Regions from separate parts of the Homo sapiens genome. Here region 2 is linked to region 1. Evidence: fine-mapped expression QTL. A gene starts in region 1. The other region holds a variant in brackets. All regions are shown on one strand. Distances are from middle to middle. Region 1 holds the start of AIFM2 (AIF family member 2). Region 2 overlaps COL13A1 (collagen type XIII alpha 1 chain).

What was found. PIP is the estimated chance that this variant, and not a neighbour inherited with it, causes the effect.
Region 2: its variant is fine-mapped to the expression of AIFM2 in macrophages (Nedelec 2016, PIP 0.95).

The regions. Positions count from the first base shown.
Region 1 is chr10:70,130,696-70,136,067 of GRCh38, reverse strand. AIFM2 (AIF family member 2) reads left to right here and starts at 3,243. Exons shown (of 9, transcript NM_032797.6): 1 at 3,243-3,334. RefSeq lists silencers at 3,069-3,388, 3,221-3,430 and an enhancer at 2,952-3,452.
Region 2 is chr10:69,951,925-69,957,296 of GRCh38, reverse strand. COL13A1 (collagen type XIII alpha 1 chain) reads right to left here. Exons shown (of 41, transcript NM_001368882.1): 39 at 4,329-4,415; 40 at 255-293. LOC107984242 (a long non-coding RNA gene) reads left to right here. Exons shown (of 4, transcript XR_007062181.1): 3 at 442-627; 4 at 2,319-2,402. Among named protein-coding and RNA genes, the nearest start is that of LINC02636, 55 kb to the left of the region's middle. RefSeq lists a silencer at 409-478. The variant A/G (reference allele first, on the strand shown) is at 3,129.

The DNA.
Region 1 (5,372 bases):
ACAAATTTCGTTGGAACTACGTATGGAAAAGGAGAACATTTACCAGGCTCTTCAGATCTAAGAGTTGCCTGTTCTTCGAGTGGGCATACTGCCTCTGTTTCTCTGGGCTCCTGAGATGACCCAGTACCTTGGAGCTCCTCCAGCCCTGGGAGCCAGCAGAAAAGCCACCTGTTGTCTGTAAGGAAGTACCCACAGGCCTGGCTGAGCTCATTACAGCAGAGAGCCAGCAACGCTTCCTCCTCTTAGATTCCGTCATGTTAGACAATCTGCCTGCTCTCCCCACTAACCGTCAAAGTTCCATGGAATGAACTTGCCACTTTTTCAGGATCCTAACCACCGCACTTTCCTGCTACCTCTGGCACTTGGAATTTCAGAGACAAAACCCCTTTTTTAGGCAGCGAGCCCTGATTTTCAGTTCCAAAGCTATGGGCACTGCTGAGTGGGACCAGAGGAGTGGTGTGCAGTGAGCTACCTGGAGGGGTTGCATGAGACCATGTCCCCTCTCCTGGATGGAGGTGTCTTCTGGTTGCCAAGAAAGTATTGAGTGATAATCAGAAAAATTCCTTGATTTTCATGGTTTGTTGCTTTGTAGCAGGTCTTAAGGAAAAAAAAAAAGTTTTTCATGGTTTGGGACAGGTCCTTAGAGATGGGCCACACCAGCCCTGGCACACCTGAGCCCAGTGTTGGGCCACCTCACACCTCTCTCGCCTCTCTTCCAGCTTTATCTTTGTCCTGCTCTTTCTGGAGTCCTTTCCTTGCATCCTGCCAGCTGGCATCCCCTTCATCCTTGCACGCCTACCTTCTACACAAAGCCTTCCATGACCATCCCAAGCCTCAGGGCTGATTCCGTGCAGTGGGCAGGCTGTAGCCTCTCTGTTCACCTCTCTGTGTCACATCTTACTGGGTACATGCCCAGTAAATTCCCCACAACTGAGATTCTGCTTTGCCTGAGCAGTGCCCTCTGGCTCCTTAGGGATGATGCTTGCTGAGGGGTTTCCTGGCTTTAAGGTCATGGTTCAGGCTGGGCTCAGTGGCTCACACCTGTAATCCCAGCACTTTGGGAGGCCGAGGTGGGCAGATCACTTGAGGCCAGGAGTTTGAGACTAGCCTGGCCAACATGGTGAAACCCCGTTTCTACTATAGCCGGGTGTGGTGGCAGGTGCCTGTAATTCCAGCTGCTTGGGAGGCTGAGGCATGAGAATCGCTTGAGCCTGGAAGGTGGAGGCTTCAGTGAGCCGAGAGCATGCCACTGCACTCCAGCCTAAGCGACAGAGCCAGATTCGTCCCCCTACCCCCCAAAAAGGGGTCATGGTTCAGACCTCCATTGTAGGCCCACCCCCTTGCTTTACTAGCTGAGGGACCTTGCCTAAATTCTTTAGCCTCTAGGAGCCTAAATTTCCTTATCTGCAAAATGGAGATTAATAAAACTTACCTTGCAGGACCTTTGTGAAAAAAACAAAAACAAACAAAAAAACTTGAGAAGTCATTCAAAGCACTTAGTTCGTGATCAATAAATATTAGCTTATTGTTTTTCTAAGACGATGAGTAGGATTTTTCATCAAAAATAAATCATTCTGGTTGCCTTGGGCAAAATAATCTGCAATATAAAATATCTATAATAAATGGCTGCTGTGTATTCATTGCTACTGTGTGCCAGGCACCATGTTAAAACACTTTATAAAAATGATCTCATTGAGGCCTTTCCACAACTCTTTTTTTCTTTTTTTAGAGATGGAGTTTCGCTCTTGTTGCCCAGGCTGGAGTGCAATGGCATGACCTCCGCTCACTGCAACCTCTGCCTTCCTGGTTCAAGTGAATCTCCTGCCTCAGCCTCCTGAGTAGTTGGGACTACAGGCATGTGCCACCATGCCAGGCTAATTTTTTGTAGAGACAGTGTTTTACCATGTTTGCCAGGCTGGTCTCGAACTCCTGACCTCAGGTGATCCACCCACCTCGGCCTCCCAAAGTGCTCGGATTACAGACGTGAGCCACCGTGCCTGGCCCTTATCCACAACTCTTAAAGTAGGTGCTAATATTTGCAGTAAGTAGATGGAGATGGCTTATCTTTCGCTGAGTTAGCTTGGTCTGATTTGAGCTGGCAATACACTGCCTTCCAGGTCATTGTCCTGCCTGTGGGTCTTTGCACATCCAGACCACACTTCCTTCCTCTTTACCTAAATCTACCTCTTTCTCATCCTTGGAGAGAAGTATTTGCACCCTTCCTTTGCCCTCAGTCTTTCTTTTTTATTTTTTCATTTCATTTCATTTATTATTATTATTATTATTATTTTTTTTTTGAGACAGAATCTCACAGTCACCTAGGCTGGAGTGCAGTGGAATGATCATGGTTCACTGTAGCCTCAAACTCCTGGGCTCAAGCAATCCTCCCACCTCAGCTTCCCGAGAAGCTGGGACTACAGGTGTGCACCAACAAGCCCGGCTAATTTTTGTAGGTCTCGCTATGTTGCCCAGGCTGGTCTCCAACTCCTGGGCTCAAACGATCCTCCCGCCTTGGCCTCCCTAAGTGCTGGGACTGTAGGCATGAGCCACCGTGCCTGGCCATGCCCAATCTTTCTTACTGCAGTTGGTGATACATGGTTTTTGTTTTCTCTATACATGTATTTTTTGGTGGTGTGTTTAATATCTGTCTTTTCCCAGACTGTCGCCTCCGTGAAAGCAGGAACCTTGTCAGTTTTCTCTCCAAGTTATCCCTCCAACGCCTAGCACAGTGCCTGGCAAATGTAGGAGCTCAACAGGGTTTGCGGAATTATTATGTGTATGTCTGAAGGAAGGATGTTGGCAGTGCGCCCAACGTGTGAGGGGAACCCCACTCTCCAAGGTTCCAGTGGCTTTAAAGGTGTCCTCGAGAAAATCAGAGGAACAGGGGGATGCTTGTTTTCCTTCCTTCCTTCTCTCTCTCTCTCTCTCTCTCTCTCTCTCTCTCTCTCTCTCTCTCTCTCTCTCTCTCTTTTTTGCTTTAAAGTATGCTGAAAGGACACTTTAAACCAAGTCTGAATGGCTCGGCAGGACTGGGGCGCGGGTGCTGGCAGGAGCCGGAGAGGCGACATCTGGCCATGGGAGCATTTGTTTCAAAGTTCAAGGCCGTTCGCTCAGGGTCAAGGTTAGTCCGGCGGGCCGTTCGGAGACCAGCCCCAGCGTGCCAGGACCGTTTCCGGGGCCTGGCCGGGGCGTTGCCGCGGGGTCGGGGACCAGCACGAGTGCTGAGTCACGCCCCGCCCGGGAGCGCCTCGGGTCAGTAACTCGGGAAGACGACCAAGCGGGAGCGGGAGCGGGAGCGGGAGCCGGAGCGAGAGCGCGCGGGCGCGGCCGACAGGTGAGATCGCGCCGCCAGGCGGGCTCTCGAGACCCCGGGCGCCCCGGGCGGGACCGGGACCCGGAAGAGGGGCGAGCGGATTAGAGGCCTGGCTCACGCCGCGTCTGGCGTGGGGAGGTCGGTGCGCGCAGTTGTGGCGCTGCGAGGAGAGGGATACTCGACTCAGGCCCGCCCCTCTCTGTCTCCCCCAAAAAACGCAACAGGGAGATGTGCTCCTGGCCGAGGGCAAAGAAAACTCCACCCTCCTGGTTTGGCCCCTAAATCCCTGCTAAGTTTTCCTAAGGAAGATGGGCTTAGGCCGGGAAGGGCGAACCGGGGAAGAGGGAACACGGGGCGGGTGTAACCCGGATCTTGCGAGGACCGTCCGAGGGTCCGCTGGGTAGAAGCGGCCGGTCCGGACAGAAGCAGGTGTGAGAGGAAAGGGAGAAACCTCAGTCTCTAAGAGGAAAGAAACTGGAGTCAACCCAGTGCCCATAGGCTCGGGGGAGCTGGGGGGTGCAGCACTAGGAAGTCTGCTTCTCCCTTCCCGAAGCCCTGGGTGCTGCAGGGACAAAGACCAGCGGTGAGTAAACTAACTCTGATGGGACGCGTGCAGTCCACCTGGAACTGAATTAGTGGCCTATATTGGGGCTCTCCTTCCAACACCACCTGATCAACACACCCTACCTTTCCCTACAAGGAGAGTCTTTTTGACCCTGGAATTTAAGGTGAGGATGGGGAGTGGTGAGGTCTCTTGGGGGCTGATGATCCTGTAGGAGGACAGGCATAGGGCAGAGAGTCAGATATAGTTTGGGATGGGACTTGCAGGTTTCTGGACTGTGCACCTGTGTTCAAAAGCCTGTATCAGGTTCCAGTGTGCGTGCATGCACCTGCCAGAGAGCCCCGGGATCTCAGATCACACCTGCCCTCACCCCAGCACCTAGAGAGGAGTTCTCCAAGGAGCACAGTGTGTCACCAAGAAGAGGGCACTGAGCCCCAGCCAGGGTGGGCTGGGCAGGCTTAGCACTACCTAGCCCAGAAGTGATGGGCTGGGCAGGCCGGTGGACTCCAGGGCCAGCCTGACTTTTGTCTGGTGGCCAAATGAAGCCAGCGTCCAGGTACAGGTGGTGGGCAGACCATGGGGACCACAAAACTGGCTCTGAGGAGGATGGACAAATTGCTTGGCCTAGGTTTTCTGTGCGGGAGTGAATATGACATCCAGATGAACCTGTCTGCCCCAGAGCTGCCCTCCCCTGGGGATAAAAGGAGGCTGCCTCCCTTAGACTTTGAGTCCCTTTTCAGAAACTGGTCTTTTGGGGGTTCTGTTCTTCAAGTAGTCCCTGAGGGGCTGGCCATGGAGTGTCCCAGGAAGGGAGGCCGCCCAACCGTCTCCATCCTGCTGTGTCCCGCAGGTGGAGGAAACCTCCATGGTGCTGTGAGTCGTGCTGTAGTGGCCTTCTTATCCGGGACGGCCACTCTGGGAATGTGGCTCTCCAGAGGCTGATGTTGAAACCTACCCTTTGTGTGAGCCATGACGACTCAAAAAGCATCGTGTTTTATTTGTAATATTTGTGAAGCAATACTGGAGCAACTCTGGGATGACATTCTTGCTTTGATCAGAGCCCACACGGTTCCTGCTGTGTGTCTTCTGAGGCACAACCTCTGAACAGCTTTGGCATAAATGTAACTTCCTGGTTTTTCAGTAGTCCTATGGGCTGCTTATTGTGGAATAATACCCTTGAGATCAGGGTGGATGCTCTTGGCAGAGAAAACAGGATTGACTGAGCAAATTTTTGTGTAAATCAGATTGTGTGTGTGTGTGTCTGTGTGTATGTGTGTTGTGGCAGGGAGCAAAGGTAAAGTTACTGAGGGGTTCCTGGACAATCAGGGTTTGTTCCGCTCTCTTAGGCCTTCTTTTAAGCTAACATTCTTGAACCTAGACAGACATAGTTAAGATTCTCTGTGATTCCCACTGGGGCTTTGGTGTTCAGTTCAAAATCAGATGGTGGATTTAGCAGTTCCTCAAAAAGTTAAACTTCAAGTTACCATATGACCCAGC
Region 2 (5,372 bases), 180 kb after region 1:
AAAGCATAAAGATGTCACCTGTGTGGCTGCATGGACATTCCGCCTAGGGTTTACTGATGTTCTAAGAAGCATTTTAAAATGTTTGTTAACAGCATGCAGTGTATGGGATGTTTAATGGGCACCCTGCCTTTGAGACAGTGACTATTTGACCTATGTCTTGCTGCCTCATCTGTAGCAAGGCAGAATGGAAATTGTGGAAGCTTTATGGCACTGCTGAGAACGGAGCCCCAGTGCACACCAATGGGAAGCCTTACCTTGTTCCAGCAGCCTTGGACTGGTAAGCCATCTTCGCCCTGCAAGGAGAAAGGAAGGCAGAGGGCTCAGACTTCCTGCAATGGTCCACCAAGTGGGCAGGACAGGGGTAACAAGGGCCACACGCATTTTGGCAGCTGATCAGGATGTGGCCCACCCACGCTTGTCTATTTCTTTTCTCTACTACAGGTCAGAACCTCAGAAGGAGGTGGAAACAAATCCGGCTATTTTACCATTGGTTAAAGGTCACATGCAGCTATAGTGCAACGTCAATAGGGGCTGTCCTAGCCCGTGGGACCAGCAAGCAGAGATGTCCTTCCGTGCCACGAAGAAACAGTCTCTGCTGTGGCCCTATGGAGTGCCGGCTGCTCACGGGTAAGCCACTCAGCACAAGGCGGCCTCAGTTTCCTCCTCCATAAAACCTTGGCAAGGACAGTTGCTTGATGTGACCGCTAAGGGCCTTCCCAGCCTTCTCATTCTCTTATTTGTCTCTCTTCCTAAGCACAGGGAGGAGGACATGTAGACAGTCCTTCTTTGATGATTAATCCTGGGGTGGGGTGAGGGGCATGAAGGGACAGGCAACCTCATGAGTATTGCAGGATGGCCCTGACATGCCTTTGGCAAGAAGACAAGGGTTCCTGGCGAAGCCTTAGACCTTGCTGGGAATTTGGGGGTGAAGTGCAGTAAAAACATGGGAATCAACTGCACACCGTCGGTCTCCTTTGTTGGTAGCAACCATGCAGCTCCTTTAGCCTCAAGATGTTCGTGTTCTGCCCTTGGTGATAGAAACTTTCCTGAGTTTTCTTGGGCCCTCATATCCTCTCCTTGCTGGCATACCCTATGGGGAATCTAGAAATCTAGAGACCCAGTGGGGAAGGCGAGGCTGGGCCAAGGGCAAAGGTCTGGTTCTCAGCCCAAGTCTGCTAGACTGGCAGGGCAGACAAGGAGATGGACATGGGGCTTCAGGAGACCCGGAGCAAGTGCTCAGTCCTGAGGGAGCTTGTGGAATGAGAGTCCTCTGCTGCCCTGGTCTGACGTCATCCACCCACGCCAGGGGCTGAAACCTCTCATCACCTGGCATTCAGCAGAAATTGGTCCCAATATGGAGGGCTTAGGAAGTCTGGTTATCTTGTAGTAAAAGTCATGAGCAATAGCTACCCCTGCCCCTCAAGCCCATAATAACACAGAGGAGGAGGCAGAGTGAGAAACAAGGGGAAGACACTTCCCCAGTAAAATTAATAGAAAATTGACACATTGATATGGGATGTTATGGAAGAAAATGCCATTTTACATGGAGAGTCAAATCAGGGTGACCTTCATTTTCCCCTCTGGGTTGGGGAGGGGATTGCAGGGGGAGGAGGTGCATTCCACAGTTTCAGGGTGACCCTGTGCCCCTTCCCCAGCCTGCCACGGTGCGGTATGACACACGTCACATGGATGCCGGGAGGGAGAGGAGCCTCTGTGGGCCAGAGCGGCATTCCCATTGGTGTGTGGATGGTGGCAGGGGGATATGGAGGGCAGGGCAGGCAGAGAATGAAAAGTAATGTATGGTGAGGAACAGAGAGGCCAAGGCAGCTGCTGGCAGAACTAAAGGTGCCCAGATTGTGGGAGGGGATTGTGGCTGAGGGAAGACCTGGCCAGTGCTCAAGGGAGCCCCTGCGGGCCAGAGCGGCATTCCCATTGGTGCGTGGATGGTGGAAGTCCTGGTTGAGAAAGGTGGCTGTGCAGTCTGCAAGCGCAGGGTTTGGCAGGACCAGCAGGGACAGGAAGCATGCTACCCGCCTGCTTGCTCTGCACTCTCCTTTTGTTGCCTATGCTCCTCCTAAAAAGTCCCTACTGCCCTTCAAGGGGCTCTACGACCACCTTTCAGGGTCACACAGCATAATTTCTTGTATCTTTTTCTCTTTTGTTCAAAGAGAATTCCTGTGTGACCCCAGGGCGGGGATGTGAGACCCCAAATTCTCTTATTACTGGTATGATAAAATAGCTCTTGAACTCCAAACCTATTGGGGAAATTTGGGGAGAGCTGTAACCCCTTGAGCCTTGGAGTGAAGTGTTCCCTTCAGCTTCTTTTGCAGTAAGAGGATCAGCGTGGAGGCCTAGACTGTCCATGCCTAGAGAGGGACTGGGCAGGCGGGAATAAACTGCTACCACTTCGCCTGGGACGTGCTTGGAAGAGAGGTCCTTAGCTGTCTCCCTGCCTCCTCCTTAACTACATTCTTGACCTTTCCGTCTCTCCCAGACTCTTCAGTAAGAAGCCATCTGATCATGAAAGAAAGGGACGAGGAAGGGTCTGGTAATGTCTTTGGAGATTTAAGCAAGAAGGACAAACCCTTTAGGATCCGAAAACCTAATCCTGGACCATCCCCTAGTTCTGATGGTGTCACCTGGGCAGCGACCCACGATCCAACCTGGAAGAATAGGCAGGTGGCCCCTCCTCCAGCTCACTTCTAGAGCTTCTCAGTCTACTCTGTAATCATGCCCTTCTGTCCCCCAAATCATGTGATGGAGGAGCAGGGGATACAGGGCTGATCAGGCATCTCATTCACATGTTTCGCTAGGTGCTCAGCCAGTGATTCTGAACTAACTTCACTGCCTGAAGGAAAAGAAGTGAGTCATGGTTCTGAAAACCAGTCCAGAGAATCCACTTTCCTAGCTGGTATCTGGTGGCAGCTTTGTCTAGAATCAGCTTGGAGATGAGTATCAGAGGCAGCCAAAACCAACTTCAGGGTGGGAGAGCTGGCTGGCATCAAGTGGCTGTGCTTTAGAGGTAGCTGCAGCAGGAAGCCAGGAAACATCCCAGTAAACTTTGCATGCAAGAGGGTGGCATGACTGGGAGCCCCCAGAGTACTAGCCTAGGCGGGGTGACCCTTGGC[A/G]TTTACAGAATGAAGAAGTGGGAAGTGGAGCCTGGGGGGGATGGAGGAGGAGTGTGGAGGGTGGCTGGGGAGAAACCCAGTATGAATCACACACATGGGGAAGCCCAAATCGGCCATGCAGGCAAGCAAGGGCAATGCCATACCAATGGGCATGGGGCATCCAGTCCGTCCAGCCCTGGTAACCCCGGCTCCCCTTTCTCTCCTTTAAAACCTCGGTGTCCCTGTTCACAAAACCAACCACGATGATTATTCAGGTCAAGGCTGGCCAGCTCCAACCATGGAATAGAGAGGCCCAGTCCTACCCTGGCCAGGATGCAGGACCCTTGAGGCATCTACAAACAGGGGCTAAATCCCAGGTGATCCCCCATCTCCCAAATCCAGCTTTTGTGCTCTCTTTGTGCTCTGGAGAGTTCAGCTTTGCACACATACAACCTGCCCCCTCTCCGTTGATCCTCCTCTCTCTACAGACTCACTTAGTGTAAACACAGACAAACTTCAACTTTAGTGCATCATAATTTTTAGAACCTTCAAATGGATTCAAAGGCACTTGAGAAACCCAGCAGAAGTGCCTCATCATTAATTGCTGGCTCTTTTGAGAAGGCTTCCCATGGGGTGTCTGTCTGACTACCAGTTCTGGTCTGCAGCTTTAAAGGTTTCAGCTGGATGGCTGGTGAGTGTTGGGAGGCTGTGCATTAGAAGCCCCTCATCTGGCCTTGTTCTGCCCAGTTTTGAGCATCAGTGGCCCTGAGGAGACGCTAACTCTGGTGTCCTGCATCCTGATCAAGTGAGGATTCAGACAGCTTGAACTACTGGCCCACAGAGGTGGCCATGAAACGAAGAAGGCAAATCCGTGGCTCACAAATGCTACACTGGCTTCCAAAGCCATCCTGGAGCTAAGAGCTGAGGCCTTCCCTGAAAATCCCTTTCCTAGTGGTTTCCTCACTTCCACACATCGATTGCTCTGTATCTTCAAAGGAAAAGGATTCAAAGGCAAGGGATTTAGCCAGAATTACTTGCAGCTGTGGTTACAAAGCAAATCCAACAGCGGGCAGAATTTCACCAGTCAAATGAACAGAGAGATTTTGGTAGCATCCGTGTAGACATTTGGTTCTCATCTTAGTTTATTTGCCTTCTTTGTTTCCAACTTACAAACCTCAAGAACAAAAACCAGAACAATGCAAGTGATAAACAAAAACATACCAATGGGCAGGGGGCATCTAATCCAGGCGCTCCTTGGTCTCCCTTATCCCCTTTAGGCCCTCTAGAGCCTTTCTTCCCCCTCTCCCCCTGTAAATAATGGTTTAGTCCGAGAAAAAAACATCAAAACTTTAAGATCATTCATGTGTTAAGGTTGAAGACAGAAAAAGAAAAATAAAATTAAAAAGGGAAAAAGAGATGCTTTAAATTAGGATATTCTCCCCAGTAGGATTTGGAGTCAATACCCACCTCCTCCCCACCCCCCAGGAACCTGAGAATTTGGCTAAGGTGGGTGGGAGGGGGAGGGGAGGACAGGCAGAGGGCTCAGAGCTGCAGGTGCAGGGAACCACAGACTGAAGATTTTGGTGGCCGGTTTTGCTAATACTAAGCCCAGCGTGGGTCTGTGCTGAACACAGTGGCTAGGGACCAACTTCCTTCTCTTTGAGTCTGTTTTTGAAAGGCTTTGGGGTGAAAACTTTTTTTTTCCCCAATTAATGTTTATCCTTTTGACATTCTATTAGGAGGCAAGGTGATTTTGCTTGGAGCCCTGGGATGTGTGTGAACATAGCATGTATGAGTGTATGCATATATGTGCTTGTGCACATGTGTGTATATGTATGTATGAGTATACAGGTATGTGCTTGTGTATATGTGTGTGTGTGCCCACGTTTGAGTGTGTGTGGGTATGTGCTTGGGCACGTGAACACATGTGTGTGCCTTTATTATGCATGTGTGTCCATGTGCACATATGTATGTGTGTGTCCAGAGCTCACGGATGGCCCCTTGTGCTCAGCTGGCTTCTCCTGTTCTATCTGTGTCTCTGGTTCATCCTGGTCTGAAGTCAGACCGTTATTTGTATATGAATATGTTGGTTTAAGGAATTCATTTGTTTCTGAAAAGCTACAGTAAACATCATTTTTCTAAATTGAATCCTATATTGTATGTGTCAGAGTCTATTTAAAGAAGGGCTGTGGGGAATTCTTTTTAAAAGTGAAGCATCACTTCTGTAATGAATTTGCATTTGCATTTTTATATGTGTTTCCTAAA